Linked DNA regions of Homo sapiens: region 1 is linked to region 2. Evidence: fine-mapped expression QTL. A gene starts in region 2. The other region holds a variant in brackets. All regions are shown on one strand. Distances are between the middles of the regions.

Region 1 (10,876 bases), 32 kb before region 2:
AGCTCATTGTGGAAAAGTGCCTTCTCATTGGTTGCTATTCTCTCTAGGTACTTACTTGGAAGGTATCAGAATATGAAATCTTGATTATGTCACATAAGAATGTTCCATACCTTCCTGTGGCCTACTGGATACAAGCTAGTAGTAAACAGCTTGCATATAATTTTAAATAAAATACCCCCTCTCTCATCTCCTCCTGGGATTAAGGGAAGATCCTTGGTTATCTCTGCTTGGGCAGTGAGTTGCTGTGTGATCCACTTGTTTGATGCTTCATCCTTCTCTAAGGAGCTGAAAGTCATCTTGCTTTGACAATTGTTGCAAAAGTGTTATATTTTCAAGTTGTTGTTTGTTGGATTATGAACATTTAAAAACTAGTTTGTATAAATGGAATTGGCAAGTTTATCTGCCTAAGATACAATTTCAGAGTAGAAGGTGAATAAGCTCTTTGGTGGCTCCTTCCAGTGTGGTGTGTCCACAGGGTCATTTACTGGGGCTTCCCACTGGCTTACATCCCTCCCGCTCCAGCCTCAAGTTCACCTGCGTGCTGTTCTCTTCCACTAGGAAAACGCTGCCGCGGTCCACAGTGTCGATTCTGGATGACCACATTAGCCACTATCCACAGCTAGAGGATCCCATGGGCTTCTTGAATGCATATATGGGCTTCATCAACTCCTTCTGAGCTGGAAAGAGTAGCTTCCCTGTATTACCTCCCCTACTCCCTTATGTGTTGTGTATTCCACTTAGGAAGAAATGCCCAAAAGAGGTCCTGGCCATCAAACATAATTCTCTCACAAAGTCCACTTTACTCAAATTGGTGAACAGTGTATAGGAAGAAGCCAGCAGGAGCTCTGACTAAGGTTGACATAATAGTCCACCTCCCATTACTTTGATATCTGATCAAATGTATAGACTTGGCTTTGTTTTTTGTGCTATTAGGAAATTCTGATGAGCATTACTATTCACTGATGCAGAAAGACGTTCTTTTGCATAAAAGACTTTTTTTTAACACTTTGGACTTCTCTGAAATATTTAGAAGTGCTAATTTCTGGCCCACCCCCAACAGGAATTCTATAGTAAGGAGGAGGAGAAGGGGGGCTCCTTCCCTCTCCTCGAATGACGTTATGGGCACATGCCTTTTAAAAGTTCTTTAAGCAACACAGAGCTGAGTCCTCTTTGTCATACCTTTGGATTTAGTGTTTCATCAGCTGTTTTTAGTTATAAACATTTTGTTAAAATAGATATTGGTTTAAATGATACAGTATTTTAGGTATGATTTAAGACTATGATTTACCTATACATTATATATATTTTATAAAGATACTAAACCAGCATACCCTTACTCTGCCAGAGTAGTGAAGCTAATTAAACACATTTGGTTTCTGAATAAATTGAACTAAATCCAAACTATTTCCTAAAATCACAGGACATTAAGGACCAATAGCATCTGTGCCAGAGATGTACTGTTATTAGCTGGGAAGACCAATTCTAACAGCAAATAACAGTCTGAGACTCCTCATACCTCAGTGGTTAGAAGCATGTCTCTCTTGAGCTACAGTAGAGGGGAAGGGATTGTTGTGTAGTCAAGTCACCATGCTGAATGTACACTGATTCCTTTATGATGACTGCTTAACTCCCCACTGCCTGTCCCAGAGAGGCTTTCCAATGTAGCTCAGTAATTCCTGTTACTTTACAGACAGGAAAGTTCCAGAAACTTTAAGAACAAACTCTGAAAGACCTATGAGCAAATGGTGCTGAATACTTTTTTTTTAAAGCCACATTTCATTGTCTTAGTCAAAGCAGGATTATTAAGTGATTATTTAAAATTCGTTTTTTTAAATTAGCAACTTCAAGTATAACAACTTTGAAACTGGAATAAGTGTTTATTTTCTATTAATAAAAATGAATTGTGACAAAAGTGGACTCTGGCTTCCCCTCCCCCCTCCCCCCCACCCCTCTGGGATAAAAATTTTCCAGCATTGCCAGGAGCTTTCAGGTACACATTAAAGAATAAAATGAAGTTAAGCAGCTGGAGTATAGGATAGTATTTGATTTTCAAGATCACCCAAAGCTGCACTATCGTCCCAAAGCTGACCAAGTAGAATAAAAAGAAAAAAAAAAAAAAACAACCCATGCGCAAAGATAGACATTTGCTTGATCTGCTGGCTCAGGGCCAAATGTTTAATTTGCTTCTCCAAAGTCATTCATCTTCAAAAGTCTGATTCTGGGAAACTGATGCCACTAGCCTAAAAGCCCACTGACCATGTAGTGTGCATCAGTTTCCTCTTGTCCAGTAAGCATTTATCCAACAGAAGCTAAGATAACATCTACAGGTGTTCTCTCTTTACTTCTGACAGTCACCTGCATGGTCACTCCATCGGCTAAGGCCAGCCTGGACCTCACCAATAAATCATAGCCACCTCTGAATATACCTGAGAGAAAAAAGTAAGGAAAACCATATTAAGAACCCAAAACAAGCACTGGATAATGAAATTTATCATGCTATCCCTGCATCTCCTTTCTATTAGTTTAGTTTAGCTTTTCCAGAGACTTGTGGAAACTGAATCCTAAACAAACATAAATTCCAAATATATATATTTTTATATTCCCATGAAACCAGGTACATAGAAGGTATTCAAAAATACCAATTTGGAGTACTCAAAAGGAATGTTGGTGGTGGCCTTGGTATCTGTTGGAGAGATTTGTTTTGGGCCAAATGTACATCTTAAAAGAATAACCAAGAATAGCATGCAAAACAAATTATTCATTTTGACTGGGTATCAAATTGTTACTCATATAATGGGATGATGGGACAACAGCAAGGCATAAGATGCCCATCTATATCCTATTATTAAGCTTTGCAAGAAAATGGAAGGAAAATCTGATGGAAGCTTCTTACCTGCCAGATAGAGCGAATGGGAATTCTTGTTCTCAGGTACTTTATCGGACCTCTCACATGGCTGCATGCCCAGAAATGTGATGATATTGTTGACAGCCTCTGTGTTGAGAAGATGTATGAGACAGTATTAGGAAAGTAAAGCACAGGGATCTCCCTCTGCACCAGTGTATGCTGGGAGCTGGGGTGGAAGGGTTTGTTGGTGAAGGGGGTTGTTGGTGATGTGTAGAGGGAGGCTACTACTGGACTAGAAAATGGCTGATCAATTAGATGATGAAGACAGGGTGCTGGCCTTTTAAGTAAGAGATTTATGAAGTTTTTTTTTTTTTAAAGGAGTTCTTCTGGAGTAACAAATATGCCTGTTAGGTGTTATACTGTTATCAGGCAATATACTGATAGCAAAATGGGTCTCACCTTCAAGGGTTTTGGTAGAACTGAGGGCAAAGGTTTCCTCTTTCTCAAAGGTATCTCCCACCTCTTCCCAAGCAGCAGCAAAGTTAGGCTTCAGTACTTTCTGAATATGGTCAGACACAGTCACTTCGAGATCTTCCAGCTAGTGGGTAATAAGCAGTCAGTAAAGAAAAGTCCTTTCTGTTATAGGGCAAAGATAAAGGAACTAGTCAATATGGTCCTCCGGAGCCTAGAGAAAACTCTACCACCAAAATAGTTTAAGTTCTGTAGTCTGGATAAATCTAATGTTGTAGCCCTTAGCAAAGGAAAGCAAGAAAACAGAACATCTGGCAAGAGCCTCAGATCAACATCTGTAGCCCTGAGGTACAGAGTAGTCATGTTGCACCCACACTTGACCACTGAGTTCTGGGCACACGGTACCCTCTGATCATTCACTAAGAGGTTGATATTTTTTAAAAAAAGTTTTCCCTCCATTCTGTGAAGGCTTTTTAATCCATGATCTGGCTATAAACTAACAGCTGCTGAAGCAAAAACAAAAAACCAAAAAACAAAACCAACCCCCTCCCCAAATCATTTTAAATAAAACTGATCTCAATGAAAATCATGTCATTATTTTCATCTCTTAATTATCCCTATTATAAAGAAAAAAAAGGGTGAGTTTGTTTTAATGATGAAGTGGTAAATCTCAATTCTCTCTGGCCTGGTGCTGTCCAGTTACAGAGGAGGGTTAGTCCAGGTCCTCCTAATTTGTCATCTGTTTCAGAAGAATAGAAATCCCTTAAGTTTATGTCAGATGCTCCTAGAAAAATGTTCTCTCAAGGCAGAAGTCACTTAGTGTTGTGAAGGTGTCAAAGAAAGTCTCTATGCTGGGAAGACTCACCACATACTCATCATCATACCCATCCTCATCTGGAACTCCAGTGTTAGGGTCACAGTCCCGGACTGTAAACTTCATGGTGCAGCTAAAGGAGCCTGCAACTGGAGGAGAAGGGAGGCAAACCTGCATCAGTGGGGAGTGCAAGGGAGACGTTTCCATCATTCCATCTGTACTCAGCACTGTGTTCCACATTTTCCAGTTAAACACACATGCCCTGTTGTCTGGGGTAGTGGTTCTCAAAAGCAGCCTACAAGCGGGTCAGGAAGGCAGTCTCACAAAGCATGAATGTAAAGTCTATTCCACGCTGTGGGTTACAGCAGTACAGAAATGATAACATGGGCAGACTGTTTCTCTATTGGTATGAAGAAAGCAGCAGAGAGGTACTTTTGGGGGCTTTTTGCCATGCCTATCAAAGGGGCCTAAATGTTGAAAAATAAATATTTTGAGAACCACTGCTGTAGGACCTGACCAAAAAAAAAAACAAAAAAAAAACCTGTGGTAAAAAGCATACAGATCATCAGATTAACATTGACCAATCTCATCAGCATCTCAATACTATCTTTAGATTGTGGACTGATGGCGGG[T/G]CCACAGATCACCAGAGAGAACTTGCTTTATCTGTCAACCTTCAGCCTAAAGTGAGTAGGTCAGTAATGAGTTTCTAGTATTGGTAAAGTCAGTGTCTTAAATGGAAAAGCAAGTGGGCAGTTGTATGTTTTCACACAAGTGGTGTTAAGTAATAAGAAATGGAGGTGGGGGTACATTTTTGGAAAGTGAAGTCTTTATAAAAAGTAAAGACAGTATTTTCTGAAATGTTTGAAGGAGGGGATTTAGCAAGCAGGGATGAAGAAAAGGCATTTAGGATCTTGTCTATGGTCTGGAAAAAGCTTATAGGTACAAAAAATATTAGATATTGGGAGAGTTAAAAAGTTATTTGGGGGATAGGCAAGGAGAGGAAAGAACAGGCTCAGATGTGAAGACCATATACGACAGATTGGGTAATAAGACTTTCATCTGCTCAGTCTTGACTTTAAATTCCATCCATTCATCCATCCACACATGTAGTGACTGTCAATACATGTTGACATTACACGTAAAGGTATAAGCTTATGTGCCAGACACTTGGATAAAAAGATGACTGAGACATGATCTCTGTCTCTAGGAGCTGTCTAGGAGTTAAATAAGTGTGTGGGCTGTGTGTGTGTGTGATCTATCTATGACTTTACAACTCAATGCCATAGATCCTTTAAGTTTTAAGAGAGTGCCATGTGAGGGTGCGGGATTAACAAATAGCCTGGGAAAACTGTAAAAAATGTGAAACGATATAATAGTTTAACTGGCTCTCAAAAGATGCAAAAGAGCTTTGGCAAGCAGAGGAAGATGTACAAACAGGCAAAAGGAAAGAGGCCAGAAAGTCCACCGGGCAGCTGGAAACAGTAAGAGGCATGCTAATGCCTAGGTGCTGAGAAGATAATTTGTTTAGGAATAAATTGTAAAATACCTTGTATTTCAAATGATTTTCCAACAGGCTCTGGTGAGCTGAGGCAGTCAAGAGATTGAAAGGTTAGAGATAAGCTAGATAAGGTGCCTAATTTAAGCCACTGGTGGGGACTATGAAGAATGGGTCTGAATTCAGAGAGCAGATGGATTCAACAGAATATGCTGAAAACAGACGATGGCAGTGGGTTTTCCCATATAGGAAAGAATGAACCTATCAAGCCTGCAGAATCAATTTCAATGCCATTAGGGGTTGAGAAAAGAACGACTGTGGTTTAATTAGGATAGGATTTTCTTCAGAGAGAAGGGGAAAGAAGTGAAAGTTAACACAAGGCCAGAACAGGTCAGGTGAGGCATTTTTTTTAAACCATGAAAGAGATACAGAATATGGTAGGGGAAAAGGTCATGATCAAGTTAGAATGAAGAGTCAGGAGAGACATTAATTATAGCAACCCAGTGTGGTTCCAATTAAGCAGAGAGGCTACAGCAAATGAGGAGGACAAAGAGACAACATCAGGTATGAAGGCAGATCACAGACTGGGCACAGGGGCTGAGTTTTATGTGGAGGTAAAGACAGAAGACACTTACATATAAGGACCTGATACAGAGAAAGAGATTAAGGAAGTAAATAGGAATGGTGTTAGTAGAGATAATGTTCCTGAAACCTTAGTGGGAATTTTTTTACTTAAATGGTTTGATTGATACAATGAGAGGTTACAGGGATCTAAGGAAGTCTAGGCAGTAATCTGTCGAAGCTGCTGGAGAGGATGACGAAATGGGGCGAGGAGGCAAGATGCGGGGGCCTTTCCATGGCAAGAAAATACTGAATGCACTGCCATAATGTAAATATGAGAGTTACACAGACAAAGCAAGGCAAATACCAAAGAGAATCAGGAAAGAATGCCCTGAAGATCTGCATTAAAACTGTTCTCTGAAATTAAGCTTGTCTTGTGAGGATTCACTGAAAATGAGAGTCAACCACTAAGGAGATTTGTATGAAAAGAACCCAGCGAATTAGAGAAAAGATAGATGCTGGCAGCTAAGACAGGAGAGGGACATGTGAGTTGGGCCAGGGTACAGAAAATGCAGTGTGGCAAAGGGCAGAGTGGGAAAGGTGGGAGGGAGCTGCCAGGTCTCAACCACCTGGGGGAGACCATGACAAAGTAAGAGACACTTATGAGGTATTTCCAGAAAGCTTTGTTAGAATAATAATTAAAGAAAAGGGTATGTCACTAGGGCAAAAGATTAGAAAGAAGGCAAAAGAGATGGATCTGTACAGGCTAACTGCAGCAGTCTATGCAGGTCTGGACTGAACTGAGAAGCAATGGGTGCAGCATAGTGTGTAGGACATCGAGGAAAGCTGGGCAGTGAGTGCCAAAATAAGCAATACACACCTACCTGGAAAATCGTGTTGAGTCTGTGGGAATGCTGTACAAATGGTGGGAGGGAGTTTTTCTCTAGGACAAATTCAGAAAGGGAAGGAGGAATGGTACTGGAAAGCAACATTAGAGTTGTCCTCAGATGAAAAGGAGTTGGTCACTAAGGAATGACACACATCAACAGGAAGGTAAGACAGCATTGCTGGGCCAAAAGTCATAAGAGAGTATGAAATAAGAGACTGGAAGCAAAGGAAAGAAAATATTACATAAGGAAGGGCCTACTGGCAGAGCAGGTGTGGAATAAAGATTTAGAATGGGGTATCCTGTCTAGGTCTAAATGGTCGGCTGCATGGGAAATACACAGAAAGGGTTAAGGAGCAAGGAATTCAGTAGGAGGCAGCAGCAGACTAGCTCTTAAAGCTTTTGAGGGAATGGCTAATTAAAGGACTTGCTTGATAGGAAAGTTATAAACTGATGAATGCTGATAAAAAGCTATAGATGGGCCGGGTGCAGTGGCTCACGCCTGTAATCCCAGCACTTTGGGAGGCTGAGGCAGGTGGATCACCTGAGGTTGGGAGTTCAAGACTAGCCTGGCCAACATGGTGAAACACTGTGTCTTCTAAAAAAAAAAAAAAAAAAAAAAAAATACAAAATTAGCCGGGCGTGGTGGCCCATGCTTGTAATCCCAGCTACTTGGGAGGCTGAGGTAGGAGAATCACTTGAACCCAGGAGGCAGAGGTTGTGGTAAGCCGAGTTGGTGAGCCTTGTTAACTCTCCTTGTTAATACACAACTCTCCTTGTTAATATACAACTCTGACAATTTAACATGAGCCAAGCCCCATTGCACTCCAGCCTGGGCAACAAGAGCAAAACTCCATCTAAAAAAAAAAAACAAAAAACAACAAAAAAGCTATAGATGGCAACTTTAGAAATATTAGGCTTGATTTATTAAGAGAGTGTGAACATGTAGTTTGTCCAGAGAATGGATTATTGCTACTAGATGGGGAATGGGTGATTATGAAGAGTGAAGTAAAAAAGTCTATATCTATTTCTGTAGAGATGGTAAGGCCGGGTGCAGTGGCTCACACTTGTAATTCCAGCATTTTGGGAGGCTGAGGCTGGCAGATCACTTGAGGTCAGGAGTTTGAGACCAGCCTGGCCAAGATGGTGAAACCCCGTCTCTACTAAAAATTTTTGTAAAAATACAAAAATTAGCTGGGCGTAGTGGCACATGCCTGTAATCCTGGAGGTTTCAGTGAGCCAAAATCACGCCACTGCACTCTAACCTGGGTGACAGAGTGAGTTTCCGTCTCAAAAAAAGAAAAAAGAGAGAGATGGCAAGTGAAAGGATGACTGACAGTTAAGATATCGTAGACTATTGCACAGTGTTCCACTGAAGTTGCCTAGAAGTTACTCTGCTATGTGAGGATTGGCTAAAAGTGACAGACATTTCCTAGGGAAACATGAATGAAAATATCACAGGGGAAGAGAAAGAGAAGATGGAGGCTGGAAGCTAAAAGATGAAAAGATGTAGGATTTAGGCTGGAGTGTGGAATATAAAGTGTGGGTAGGGGCTGGGCACGGTGGCTCATGCCTGTAATCCCAGCACTTCAGGGGACTGAGACAGGTGGATCATTTGAGGTCAGGAGTTTGATACCAGCCTCGCCAACATGGTGAAACCCCATCTCTACTAAAAATGCAAAAAGTAGCTGGGCGTGGTGGCAGGTGCCTGTGATCCCAGCTACTTGGGAGGCTGAGGCAGTAGAATCACTTGAGCCCGGGAGGTGGAGGATGCAGTGAGCCGAGATCAGGCCACACTGCACTCCAGCCTGGGTGACAAGAGTGAAATAATTCTGTCTAAAAAAAAAAAAAAAAAAATATATATATATATATATATATATATATATATATGTGTGTGTGTGTGTGTGTATATATATATATATATGTGTGTGTGTGTGTATATATATATATACACATATACATATATATGTATGGGTAGGGAAGGGCATTAAAGAGGGCCAGAATGAGGAACACCAGAAGATGGCAGAGCTGCATATGCAGTAGAGAGATGTGAGTTAAGCTGGGTTACAACCAAAGAAGGAAAGAGAATACAAAGAGTAAGTAGATAAATAAGAACTGGTGTCATGAGGAAGTGCCATCTGGGAATCTTTGCTTGAATGATGTTTGAAGCAACAAGTGTGACCAATAGAGTGAAAGGTCAAGGAGTTTAAATGGAATGGATTCTTGCCATAGGCAGTGGCAGGAACCCTATGAAGGTCTGGAATGAACTGAAAGTGCAAGTGTTTTCAGAGTAGTGTGGAGGTGACGAGGAAGAAAAGACTAAATTCATGAGAATGATACACAAGATGATAGCTGAAAAAACAAGTGACTAACAGTTGTTCTACTAGGGTCAACTGGGGAAAATAGTGGAAGAGCCTGCAGAAGAGACGGAGTCATTTGAAGATTGGCAGGTATTGACTGGAGGGATACGGCCCCATAAGTGTAAGATTAAATAAGGAGAGACTGGAAACTGTGTAAAGGGAGAACTATACAAAGAGTAGGTAAGCGTAGGTGGAGTGGCATGGACAGGTAAAATGAGGAAAGTGTTTCCCAGAATGGGAAATCTTGTAAACCCTTAAAAAATGTGGGTTTATTCAGTCAAATGTTGGCTCTTAATTGCAGACTTTGAAAAGCAGTAGATACAATGGAAGAAGAACAAGTGCTTGAAAAGTAATGCGAAGCTTTTGTGAGAAGTTTAATGAGAAGGATTAGAAGGAGATGGATTAAGATGAGCCCTAATAGGGCAGCACTTAAAGACACCAGGATAGATCTTTGAGTAGTTTGTAGAATGGATGACTAATATTGGAAGAGGAGTGGCTGGAGATCATGTTGGAAACCCATCTCAAGGGTGAAACTTCTTTGTTTCCAGGTACAGATGGTAGATGAAATTTTACTCTATATAATTAAGGGAGGGCAAATCACCAAAGGGGAGAAACAAATGAATATCATGTAAGTGCGGTATTAAAGTTACTCTTAGAAGTTACTCTGTCATGTGAAGATTTTCTACAGATGAGAGACAGACACTAGAGAGAATTTGGCTAGGAAGTGCCATTCAGGAGGAGACAGAGTCCATCTGAATGAAATATGGACAGCAGCTAAAAGAAGGGAGGCTGAAGATAAGGTAGCGTACATCTTTAGGGCAAGATAGGTAACAAGGAGAAAAGGAATAGGAGAAAACATTAAAGTTGACTCCAGATGAAAAGGTCATTTGAAGAATGGCAGGACTGACTGGAGAGACAGTCCCATATTTGGGCCAAAAGACATGAAGAGGGGTTAAAGCTAAGGGGAGCATTAAATAAACTAGATAATGATTCTGAAAAGGTGGCGTGGTAATAAGAAAGACCACAGCGCCATAAAGATGCCTGGAGAATCCTGCCAGATCTCAGAATGGGCCCAACTGGCCAAATTCAGTGGGTGTAAGGCCAGATTGCAGTGACTAGTATATGGGAGAGAAGGAAAGACCTGAATAGGAATGAGTCAGTAGACTCGCTCTTGATGCCTTAGTGGGAGATTTTTAATTAAAGGGCTTGGTTGAGGGAGAAGTTGAAGAGCAATGCTTCTTAGAATGTGTTACATGGCACTATCTAGGAATCTGTTAGAAATATGAATTCTTTTCCCCTCCCCCAGACCTAGTCAGTCAGAAACTCAGGGTGCATTAATCTGTTCTCACATTGCTATAAAGAAATACCTGGGACTGGGTAACTTATAAAGAAAAGAAGTCTAATTGGCTCAAGGTTCCACAGGCTGTACAGGAAGCATGGCTGA
Region 2 (10,876 bases):
ATGATGAAGGAAAAATGTCAGTAGTAAGGGCCTACGAAAATTAGATTGAGGCCAAAGGTATTAACTGAGTGCCTGGGAGTCATATTAGATGGGTCAGGGCATAAAGGGTGGGGTGTGGAGGTGTCAGAAGCGCAACTCTCTCATGCAGACTGGGCTTTTGGGCACGATGTGTGTTAAGGGGTAAATGGGGCAGACAATGAGGTGGTTCCAAGTGGAGAGTGCCAGGACTGTTGGGCAGGGGGAGGGAAATGCTGGTCTTATGAGTAGGAAGTGTACCTGGAAATACCAAAATACTAAATGCTAGAAATAGGAGAGTAAAGGCCAGGGAGTCAAGGTGGCCGTCCACAGCAGTGATTCTTATCTGGGGTTGAGGGGTGGGTTTCACCCGAGGGAGGGCTGGGGACATGGACCCCCAGGCAGGCCTATCCAATCATCAGAGGGGTGAGCAGTGTTCAGCTCAGAAAAAGTAAGGGAAAAAAACAATCTCTAAAAGGAACACAGATAACAGCAAAAGAAGAAACCCAGCCCAAAAGATGCTTCTGATAGGCTTCCTCGGGGTCCTGCATCCTCGGGTGAGAATCACTGGTGGACGCGGGAGGATGGAGAGCCGGACAGACATGTACAATGTGAGGGGAAGATGCACGTGCAGCGGGGCTGATGGAGGCATCAGGGTCAAGACTGTCAGGTGTGGGAACACAGTTCCCGACAGACCAGGACAAGGATGACAGCGAGCAAATGGATGTAGCCGAAAAGGCACCGGGACCATGGTGGTGGAGCTGGGATTTCCAGCGCCTCGGTCCGAGACTCGAGGACTCAGGTGGAGGAGTGAGGCCAAGATAGGGGCCCAGTGACACAGAGGAAGTGGGCTGTGCGGGTGAGAGCAGAGAGCAGGGGATCTGTTGTCACGGGGAGGGAAGGTGCAAAGGGAAATGGAGACAGTGTGGAAGGAGAGCGTCTTGAAGACATGGGCCTTAAGGAGGAGGGAGGAGGTGGGAGGAGGGTGGGACTGACAGGAGCACCCAGGAGGAGCAGAGGAGCTGGGTCTCAGGCAGGGCAGGAGAGTCAGGTTGAGACTGGGTGCATTCGTACCGGGGGGACGAGGATGGGCAGAAAGTGGGACACGAATGAGTGACAAAGACAAAACTACTCTGGTGACAGGAAGAAGGTAGGAGATTCAGAGGCAGAGGCTCCCCAGAGTGTTTTTCCACAGTGTGAAAGAAAGGATGAGAAAAGAATCAGGAAGGTTTAGGGGAGTCAGGGTTGTGGGGCCCTGGAAAGGACTCATAGCCTGGGCCACTGGGACGTGAGCTTGGACAGCAGAGCGTGTGGATTCAGTGCAGTACGTGTGACACAGAGAGGACTGCATCTGGTGGAGCAGTGGGTGCGGGGCCAGGTCAAGAAGGGAGGACACACCTGAGAACACGAATTAGGCCAGTGGCAGAATCGCAGGTGGTGCTGAGAGAACGCAGCATGGTGCAGGTGGGACAGTACCGTGCTATGCAGTAGAGGAGGAAAGCAGGAGAAACGACCAACCTGGGCCCAGGAGCTGGGAGCTGGGAGAGCAGAGGGTGAGTTTGCAGCATATGGGAGAGCAGGACAGAGGAGAGGTGTTCCCCAATGGGCAAGAAGAATGAGTTGGAGCAGGTTATGGAGGCCAGCAGCTTACAGAGGTGAGCTTGTTGAGAGGATCAGGGAATGTACTGCAGCAAGGGAGGCATGCCAAGAGCAAGAGTGTGGGTGTGAACGTAGAGAATCCTCCTTTTTGCCCAAAAGGGGCGAAGTGTTTGATGCAGGTCATGGAGGAGAAAGCATGGTGTGGGTAAGACACGGAAGGAATGAAGGAGAGGTGAGATGAGGCCACAGAAACAGGGTGTAGAGGTGTTGGCACCTTGGAAACATTGAGGACCGTGTGTCAATAAAGGGCATGGCGAGACGATGAAAGGCCAGAGGACACAACAGAGAGAGGAAACCACTGTTCCTTAGAGGCAGAACTGAGAATACAGGACGGTTAGGGGTGAACTGAGACAGCAGATGGACTCAGTACAGCAAGTTGAGGACATGGAAGCTGGCAGTGGTGTCATCAGTGGGGGCAGGGCAGGAAGGGGTCAGAGTTCAGGAAAGATTCCTGAGTCTGTGGATTGACCTGGCGGAGACAGGGCACGCAGGACTGGATGTTGAAGAGGAGGTGGAGCATGTCTGGAAGATGAAAGTGGGAGGAAACAGTGGTGCAGGAATTAAATGTGAACCTTGTGTGGAAAAAGTGAGACATTGGAGTGGAGCAGCCACATGGAGGTGGTGTGATGTGAGTGGGGTCAGGGAAGTTGATGGGAAAAGAAAGAGATTTGTGGTGCAGGAGGGGAAAGAACATCATGAAGTTGTGGGGAGCTTAGTGTCCGTACAGGGTCCGATGCAGAAAAGGGGAAGGAGGAAATCAGAGTTCCCCAAATGGGGTTTTATCAGATCTCAGGGAAGTTGGTATCATGCTTCTTATCAAGGCCAACCCATAGGATTACGGTAGGGAGGCAAAATCCCAGGCTTTTCAGAAGTGGATCCTTAGGAAAGGAAAGTAGGGGGAAGGTGCCTAAGTCACTCAGGGTAAATGGAGGAAATGGGGCATCACTGCACATTCAGACAGCACCTGCATGGAACGTACTGGCAGGTAAACCTTGGGGGCTGGGGGCCTGGGAGGGGATGGACTCATGTGTTTTGAGTCTAGTATGTGGGCAGAAAGATACTTGCAAGTGTTAGAGGGAACTAATGGAGAGAAGACAATTCCTAGTGACCACTGAGTCTGAACCTCTGTTGTCAAGGGAGCCTGAGAGGATGGAGGTGTAGCTTGCAACTGAAAATATGCACTACACCACACTTCACTACAGAGGTGCAGTGAAGTAGGAAGCGGGGGCCTTCAAACACAGGTAGCATCTTAGATTTAGTGGGAGATTAGGTCAGTAGTAAATGGGCACAGTGGGCATGCCCAGAGTTTGGATAGGATGAAGGTTTGGGTGCTGATACGGGGGCTTCATTTTTGGAAACTTTTTCCAGAGGGCAGAGAGGAGGAAAGGCAGAACAGGATGGATGGCAGGACCTGTGTAAGAAGAAGGTCTTAAATTCTAAACAAGGGTATAGTAAAGGTAGTGTGGCCAAGAGGGAAAGAAGAAATGGTGGATCCAGATAGCTTCAATGGGTACTGCAAGATCAGGTGTGATGGGCAGGGGTGCATGGGCTCACTGGGACCCTATCCAAGGTAAATGGAAATAATGGAGATGAAGAAAGGAGGAAGAGGAGGAAGTGGCGGGACTGGCTGTAGAGTTTTGTAGGAACTCACTTCATGGAACAGAAAGAGAAAAGAGGAAACAAGGCTGGAGTGGAAGAGGGGAAGGAAAAGGCAGCCTAAGGGAAGGCACTGGCCTCAATCAGTGGAAGATCTGGAGGAGCAACAGAAAACAGTTCTTGAAGAGAAGGTGGGATAGAGAGAGGATGGAAAAGTTTGAGCGGTGAAAGCAGGTCAAAGTAGTGAGCACATCCCTATGGAGAAGAGATGACTGAGTCAGATGAAGCGACAGGCCCTGGGTGGCTGAGAGAAATACTGGCCACAGACAGGCAGGTACCTTCCCTTGGCCAAGGAAGCAAAGAGAAGAAATGTGGATGCAAGGGGAAAGGCTTCAAGAAAGAATGTGGAAGTGGGACGATGAGGCAGCGCCAACAGGGGAGTCACCTACAGAAGACAGACAGGGTGGAGGGGCCCCCAGGGAAGGATGGAGGGCAGAAAGCATGGTGGAAGGGAGCTGGGCAGGACAGCCACAGGCAGGACAGCCATAGTTGGAGCGAGGTGAACGGGGAGGTCCCAGAGTAGGAACAAAGGAATGTGGAGTGCTCAGGGCAGCCTGCAAGGTTCGGCAGGGGAAGGGAAAGTGTGAAAGGGGTGGACAGCAATGGGCAGGAAGGAATGGCTGCTCTTAAAGCCTTGAACTTTGTTGCAGAAGTGTGAATCTTGGGCCAGGGTCTTTGCTATGGATGCAGTGGGGAAGGGTGGGTTGGGTGAAGGGGATGGGGTTTGGGATGGGATTTGGGTTGGGACTGACTGGGTTGGAAAGGAGGGAAGGATTGGGAGCAGTGGGGTGTGAGTGGGAGAGGAGGTAGGGAACCAGATGGGGAGAATCGAGCCAAGTTCTGGGTTGGAGGAAACTTTCTTATTTAACTGAGCTGGTGGGTTACATATCTAATGTTGCAGGTGATGAATACAGGCTGGGGTAGCCGTCTAAATCCACCGAAAGAAGTAAATGAAAGTGGTTTCTTGTAGGTCGAAAGGTCAAGGTAAATGGCTGGTTTTTAGGAAACAACTGAGAACTCGGGAAACAAAGGGGGAAGTTTCTGCAGGCCGATCTTGTAAGGGATCTGAAAAAAGGGGTGGGGATTAAGGAAAACTGACAATAGTAAGCACCCATAAGAAACAGGTTGAGGCCGAAGATACTGACACAGGGCCTAAGAGTCCTATCAGGTGGGAGGACAAGACGTATCGGGTGGGGAGGCATTAAAAGAACAAGTTTCCAATGCAGACTGGTGTTTGGGGTCAGAGGTGTGTTAAAGGGCAAATAGGGAAGGAATGAAGTGGTTCCAAGCAGAGAGTTCCAGGCCTAATGGGGGTGGGCAGACAAAAGATGAGATGTGTTAAGTGGGAAGTTAAATGGCAAGTACTAGAATGCCACCTATGGCAAGCACTAGAATGGTCTAGGTGTGAAATGAGGGAGTAATGTCAGGGAGTCAAGGTGGCCATCCATAGCAGTGATTCTTATCTGGGGTAGGGGGTGAATTTCACGTGGAGGGAGGTCTCTGGACATGGACCCCCAGGCAGGGCTATCCAATCATCTGAGGGGTGAGCAGTGTTCAGCTCAGTAAAAGTAAGGGAAAAAAAATAGCAGTCTCTAAAAGGAACATAGACAATAGCAAAAGAAGAAACCAAGCCCAAAAGATGCTTCTGATAGGCCGCCTTGGGGTCCTGCATTCTCGGGTGAGAATCACTGGTGGATGCGGGAGGATGGAGAGCCGGGCAGACACGTGGAGTGTGAGGGGAAGACGCACGTGCAGTGGGGCTGATGGAGGCATCAGGGTCAAGACTGTCAGGTGTGGGAACACAGTTCCCGACAGATCAGGACAAAGATGACAGCGAGCAGATGGATGTAGCCGAAAAGGCACCGGGTACCCTGGTGGTGGAACTGGGTTTTCCAATGCCTCGGTCCCAGACTCAAGGTGGAGGAGTGAGGCCTAGAGAAGGGCCTAGTGACACAGAGGAAGTGGGCTGTGCGGGTGAGAGCAGAGAGCAGGGGATCTGTTGTCACGGGGAGGGAAGGTGCAAAGGGAAATGGAGACAGTGTGGAAGGAGAGCGTCTTGAAGACACGGGCCTTAAGGAGGGAGGAGGTGGGAGGAGGGTGGGACTGACAGCAGCACCCAGGAGGAGCAGAGGAGCTGAGTCTCAGGCAGGGCAGGAGAGTCAGGTTGAGACTGGGTGTGTATGGGGTGGGAGATGAGGACGGGCAGAGAGCGAGACACGAGTGAGTGACAAAGACAAAATTGCTATGGTGATAGGAACAAGGTAGGAGATTCAGAGGCAGATGTTCCCCAGAGTGTTTTTACACAGTGTGAAAGAAAGGATGAGAAAAGAATCAGGAAGGTTTAGGGGAGTCAGGGTTGTGGGGCCCTGGAAAGGACTCATAGCCTGGGCCACTGGGACGTGAGCTTGGACAGCAGAGCGTGTGGATTCAGTGCAGTACGTGTGACACAGAGAGGACTGCATCTGGTGGAGCAGTGGGTGCGGGGCCAGGTCAAGAAGGGAGGACACACCTGAGAACACGAATTAGGCCAGTGGCAGAATCGCAGGTGGTGCTGAGAGAACGCAGCATGGTGCAGGTGGGACAGTACCGTGCTATGCAGTAGAGGAGGAAAGCAGGAGAAACGACCAACCTGGGCCCAGGAGCTGGGAGCTGGGAGAGCAGAGGGTGAGTTTGCAGCATATGGGAGAGCAGGACAGAGGAGAGGTGTTCCCCAATGGGCAAGAAGAATGAGTTGGAGCAGGTTATGGAGGCCAGCAGCTTACGGAGGTGAGCTTGTTGAGAGGATCAGGGAATGTACTGCAGCAAGGGAGGCATGCCAAGAGCAAGAGTGTGGGTGTGAACGTAGAGAATCCTCCTTTTTGCCCCAAAGGGGTGAAGTGTTTGATGCAGGTCATGGAGGAGAAAGCATGGTGTGGGTAAGACACGGAAGGAATGAAGGAGAGGTGAGATGAGGCCACAGAAACAGGGTGTAGAGGTGTTGGCACCTTGGAAACATTGAGGACCGTGTGTCAATAAAGGGCATGGCGAGACGATGGAAGGCCAGAGGACACAACAGAGAGAGGAAACCACTGTTCCTTAGAGGCAGAACTGAGAATACAGGACGGTTAGGGGTGAACTGAGACAGCAGATGGACTCAGTACAGCAGGTTGAGGACATGGAAGCTGGCAGTGGTGTCATCAGTGGGGGGCAGGGCAGGAAGGGGTCAGAGTTCAGGACAGATTCCTGAGTCTGTGGATTGACTTGGAGGTGGCAGGGCATGCAGGACTGGATGTTGAAGATGAAAAGGAGTTTCTGGAAGATGACAGTGGGAGGCAACACTGTGTGTAGACTGTGCAAATTTACACTGGCATACCACATGGAATGAGAGAGTCTGGCAGCCATTCTAAGGCAGTTATTGGGATGTAAATTTGATGACGGAAGTTTATGGTAAAAGAAGGGACAGGAGGCAGGTAGGAGGGGAGATAACCTTATGAATTTGTGCAGGGCTTAGCATCAGTAAAAGGGCTGACATGGAATAGGGGAAGGTGGAATGCAGAGTTCCCAAAGTGGGGGCACTGGCAAATCTCAGGGGCAAGTCAGTGGTATGTTCGGTATCATGGCTGAGTGTAGGAGCATTTTAGGGAATAGAAGTTAAATCCTAGACGACAAGCGAGTGGGGTAACAACACTTTACCTGTCATGGTAACTACTTCATTGAATAGGAAAACAGAAAAAGAAGAAACCTTATAGAGGGTGATGGTAAAGCAACCCCAACTGATATGGAAGGCAGTGTTGGCAATCACTGAAGGTCAGGATTTTGAAAGCAAACAATTAACAATGTAAAATTTGCAAGTGTGGGGGTTGGACATAGGTTACTATGTGTTTAATGTGGTCTCCAACAAAATTAGCAGAGCCAAAATGAGAAGGAAGTATTACTCTGTTTAACAAGATTGAAATTAAGGGGACAGTATACAGTTTAAACCACTTTGGGATTTAGGAATGTCAGAGTTGGTAGGGTGGGTATTGTTGCCCCTTGATCCACAGTATGGAATAATGGCAAAGAGGAAAACTATATAGAAAGAACTTGTCATTAGGGAATTTGGTGGCTTCCTTAAAGCTCCTTGAGGGAAACACTTGATGAATGCTTAGAGTCAGGAGAATAAACGGTCCCATATAGAGATAGGTTTATGAAGCGGAGTCTGAAGGATGAGCTTCATCAGCAATCCTCAGAATGTCAGTTCTACTAGCTAAGGATGCAGGTAAGTATGTTGGACACCAAGAGAACAGGAAGGAAGTGTTTTGAACACTGGAGGTGGGTCATGAGGAAGCTTATACATATTCACATTGTGAATCAATTTCAAGGACAGATGAACAAAGACTGGGCGTTACCAATAGAGCAGGGTTTTGTTTTGTTTTTCCCCTAAGGCAAAAGGCAGAAATGAGTGGGTACACCATGATTAAGTTGCATTCTGTAGAGATAGGATCATTTAAGTCAAGTCAGCAACAAAAATTAGAGACATTGAAGATGATGGGGTAGAAAAGGGGTATCAAATAGGTTAGAAAGATGGCTTGAAAGGAAATGAGGGAAATTTCAGTGAGTTTGAGGAATGGCAGACTGGGTATGTGACAAATGAGTGGGTAAATAAGGAAATCTCAGACTGAGAATCCTGGCAGATCTTTCAATGGGTTAGACTGCAGGAATATTGATTTTAAAGCCAGACTGAAGCAAATTCTAGTGATAAAGGAAGGGGAAAGGGTGGCTGAATCAAATGTTCTACCAATACTGCTTTTTTTAGTATTTGAGTTAAAATTCAGATTAAATGCTTGGCTTAGAAGAATGCAAAGCTTCACTGAGCCTAATAATATGGATCCCAGTGGGTGAGTGGAGGTGAGTTAAAGTAAAAAACTCTGAGGCAAATCTTACTTAACTGAAGTTGTGTTTTTAGTACAGAATGCCAAGTTAATATGGTTAATACTGAACAAAAAATAATGGAAGGGCAACTACAGTAGCTTAAGATGGCACTTTAAGGAAGTGTAGGCAGAAAGTCAAGAAATTAAAATAATTATGAATCATTATATGGCAGGCAATATTTCCAATGAAAATCAGAGAAAATAAACTCACATACATGTACTGTTACAGCTGATCTTAGTATGAATATTTTCTATTAAAGACTGTTTTAAAATAAGTTATTAATATTTGTTGAAATGGTTCCAGATAACAAGAAATATGATGCAATAAAACCTGATAAATAAAAGCAATATAAAGATTAGAATGGTTTTGAATAGGTAGTGGAATAAAAAGTTAAGTTGGTAGTTGCATTAAAAAGGTCAAACATGGGGAATAATTGGTAGAATGTTGTGTATATAATATATATTGTTACGGGTGCAATAAATATTCAGGGGAAACAGAGCTGCTGAAAGAGAATGAATGCTTAGAAGGAATGTTGCCTTAAAGGCTTTTCTAAAACTTTTTAGGTAAAGGACAAATTCTGGGAGGACGAAAGATAATAAGTAGGACTAGTTACATAGAGACTTAGGATGTCCATAGTCTTTCAAGAAATTGCCCAACCTTTGCGAGAAGGTGTTATGGTAATATATTGATGTTGGGTTAAAGCAAATTTTTTCAGATAGGGTAGATTTTTATACATTTATAAAGTAAAGGGGAGTAGGAAAGATTAAAGATAGATCAAAGAAAGGAATAATTGATGGAACAACTTTCTGGAAGAGATTAGAGGGTATGTGTCTTTTGAACTCTGGAAGACTTGATTTTAGAGAGGATAAAGGAAGAAAGTGGATAATTCTAGAATTAAACACCAAAAGGTTCTATGTGTCTGGCACCATGTGAAGCAACTTACCTATTATTTCATTTCATTTCATTTCATTTCATTTCATTTCATCCTATAACAGTCCTAAGAGATCAAATAATTTGTCCACGATTACACAGTCAGTATGTAGCAGGGCCAGCATTCAAATCCTCATCTGTCTATCAAACCCATATTCCCTTCTATTATGCTATACTGTTTTCAAGTTGAAGGAAATCAAACCAAGAATTTCTGTTTTTTCACTGCGATTATAAGGAAAAATATTATTTTTCTGAAATGAGACATATTGATGTTTAAGACCTTGAGGTGACAGGTAAAATTTGGAATATCTGTGATGGGAAAATGCAAAAAGGAAGGAATGGGTGAAAGATACCTATTACCATCTATGCCCTGGTATTTCACTTCTTCCATTGCACAGCATAGACTTTAGATTGGCCATGGATTAAAAATTTGAGAATTCTGACAAAAAACTAAATAGAAAGGAGTTTGTTTTTTAAGTAGGTATATGATGGGTCAAATATAAACTTACTACTAACAAAACTTTAAACAATTCCCTAAATGCCAAACTTTTATAAACAAAAATCAAACAAACCATCAAGCAAAAGAGTCCATAGCCAGCAGACCAAATGTTGAAATCTCTGGGCTAATTTGTAAGATCTATGTTTTAAAACTCCTTAGTGAAGAGGGGCAAGAAAACCTCTCCTCTTTTTCCTCTCTTGGTGGAAATGTTTTGTTGTTGTTGTTGGTTTTTTCCTATACTATATGTAATTTCTATATTGTTGTTTTGTGTATTTTGGTATTATAAAATTATACTTCTTAGATTCCGTTAAGAATACTTTCTGGGGTGTGAGCCACCTGAGTTATTAGTTAGCAAAATGAACCTGGGGAAGTGGGAAGAGCTAGTATTCTCAATTGGCAAGGGATTGATTCTTCAATGGGTTCAGCATTTCACTTCCCTCTGAAATTAAGTGGCAAAGTAATAGCATCCCTTAAAAAACAGGACATTGGTGAGAGGTAGAATAGCAGGAGGAATTTTGAAACATGGAGGGATGGCTACTGGAAAAGAACTGATGAAGTGCAGAGTCTCTCCAGACAATGGTAGAAACCACAGGACTACATTAAGATTGGGCCCAAATACTAGTTTAGAAAAAGGTAAATAAAACTAGCTTTACTTAAGAGTACAGCCAGCTTAATTACTGGCTAGTGGACATATTTCAGACAAATCTAACTGGAGAGAAAAACAGACCAGGAGAGAAAGCGAAGTTACAAGGAAATGGAACTAGAGAAACCTCACAAAGGGATAAAGGAGGTAATTAAAGGTTAAAGCCAGATAGCCTCGAGCTCAAAGGAGAAATATTGGAGGCCAGATAGGAAAGTGCCTTCCTACTCAGGGGGTTATGGATCCAGGGTGGCTAAAGAATAGAAGTAGAGTTCCACCCAGGGCCAGAGGGAACAATCTGGGATTCAGACACAGCAGTGGTGCCAACGTGAATCTACCTCGTGCTAGAGTCTGAGTAGCCTAGTCTATCACCCAACACAGATAAGACTGGACAGGGGCTCCCAGGAACCAACATCTAAGAAGGGAGTTTGGAGAGGGGCTAAAAGAAAGCAGGTTAAGCCCCAAATGTAACTGAATGATGACCAGGGATAACTATTTACTAGTGCTTTTATGATTTATTGTAACTCTGTAACTTTCCCAGTATTTGTTAATTTTTTAACTTCTGTTTCTCCTGTACTTACGAGCAG

The links. PIP is the estimated chance that this variant, and not a neighbour inherited with it, causes the effect.
Region 1: its variant is fine-mapped to the expression of COPG2IT1 in testis (GTEx, PIP above 0.99).

The regions. Positions count from the first base shown.
Region 1 is chr7:130,504,381-130,515,256 of GRCh38, forward strand. MEST (mesoderm specific transcript) reads left to right here. Exons shown (of 12, transcript NM_002402.4): 12 at 559-2,085. The coding sequence ends at 676. COPG2 (coat protein complex I subunit gamma 2) reads right to left here. Exons shown (of 24, transcript NM_012133.6): 21 at 4,182-4,279; 22 at 3,305-3,443; 23 at 2,894-2,992; 24 at 1,858-2,426. The coding sequence ends at 2,296. Among named protein-coding and RNA genes, the nearest start is that of MIR335, 14 kb to the left of the region's middle. RefSeq lists an enhancer at 1-870. The variant T/G (reference allele first, on the strand shown) is at 4,763.
Region 2 is chr7:130,536,003-130,546,878 of GRCh38, forward strand. It overlaps COPG2IT1 (COPG2 imprinted transcript 1), which reads left to right and starts at 7,451. Exons shown (of 1, transcript NR_024086.2): 1 at 7,451-10,876. The region is part of intron 20 of COPG2 (coat protein complex I subunit gamma 2); the gene reads right to left.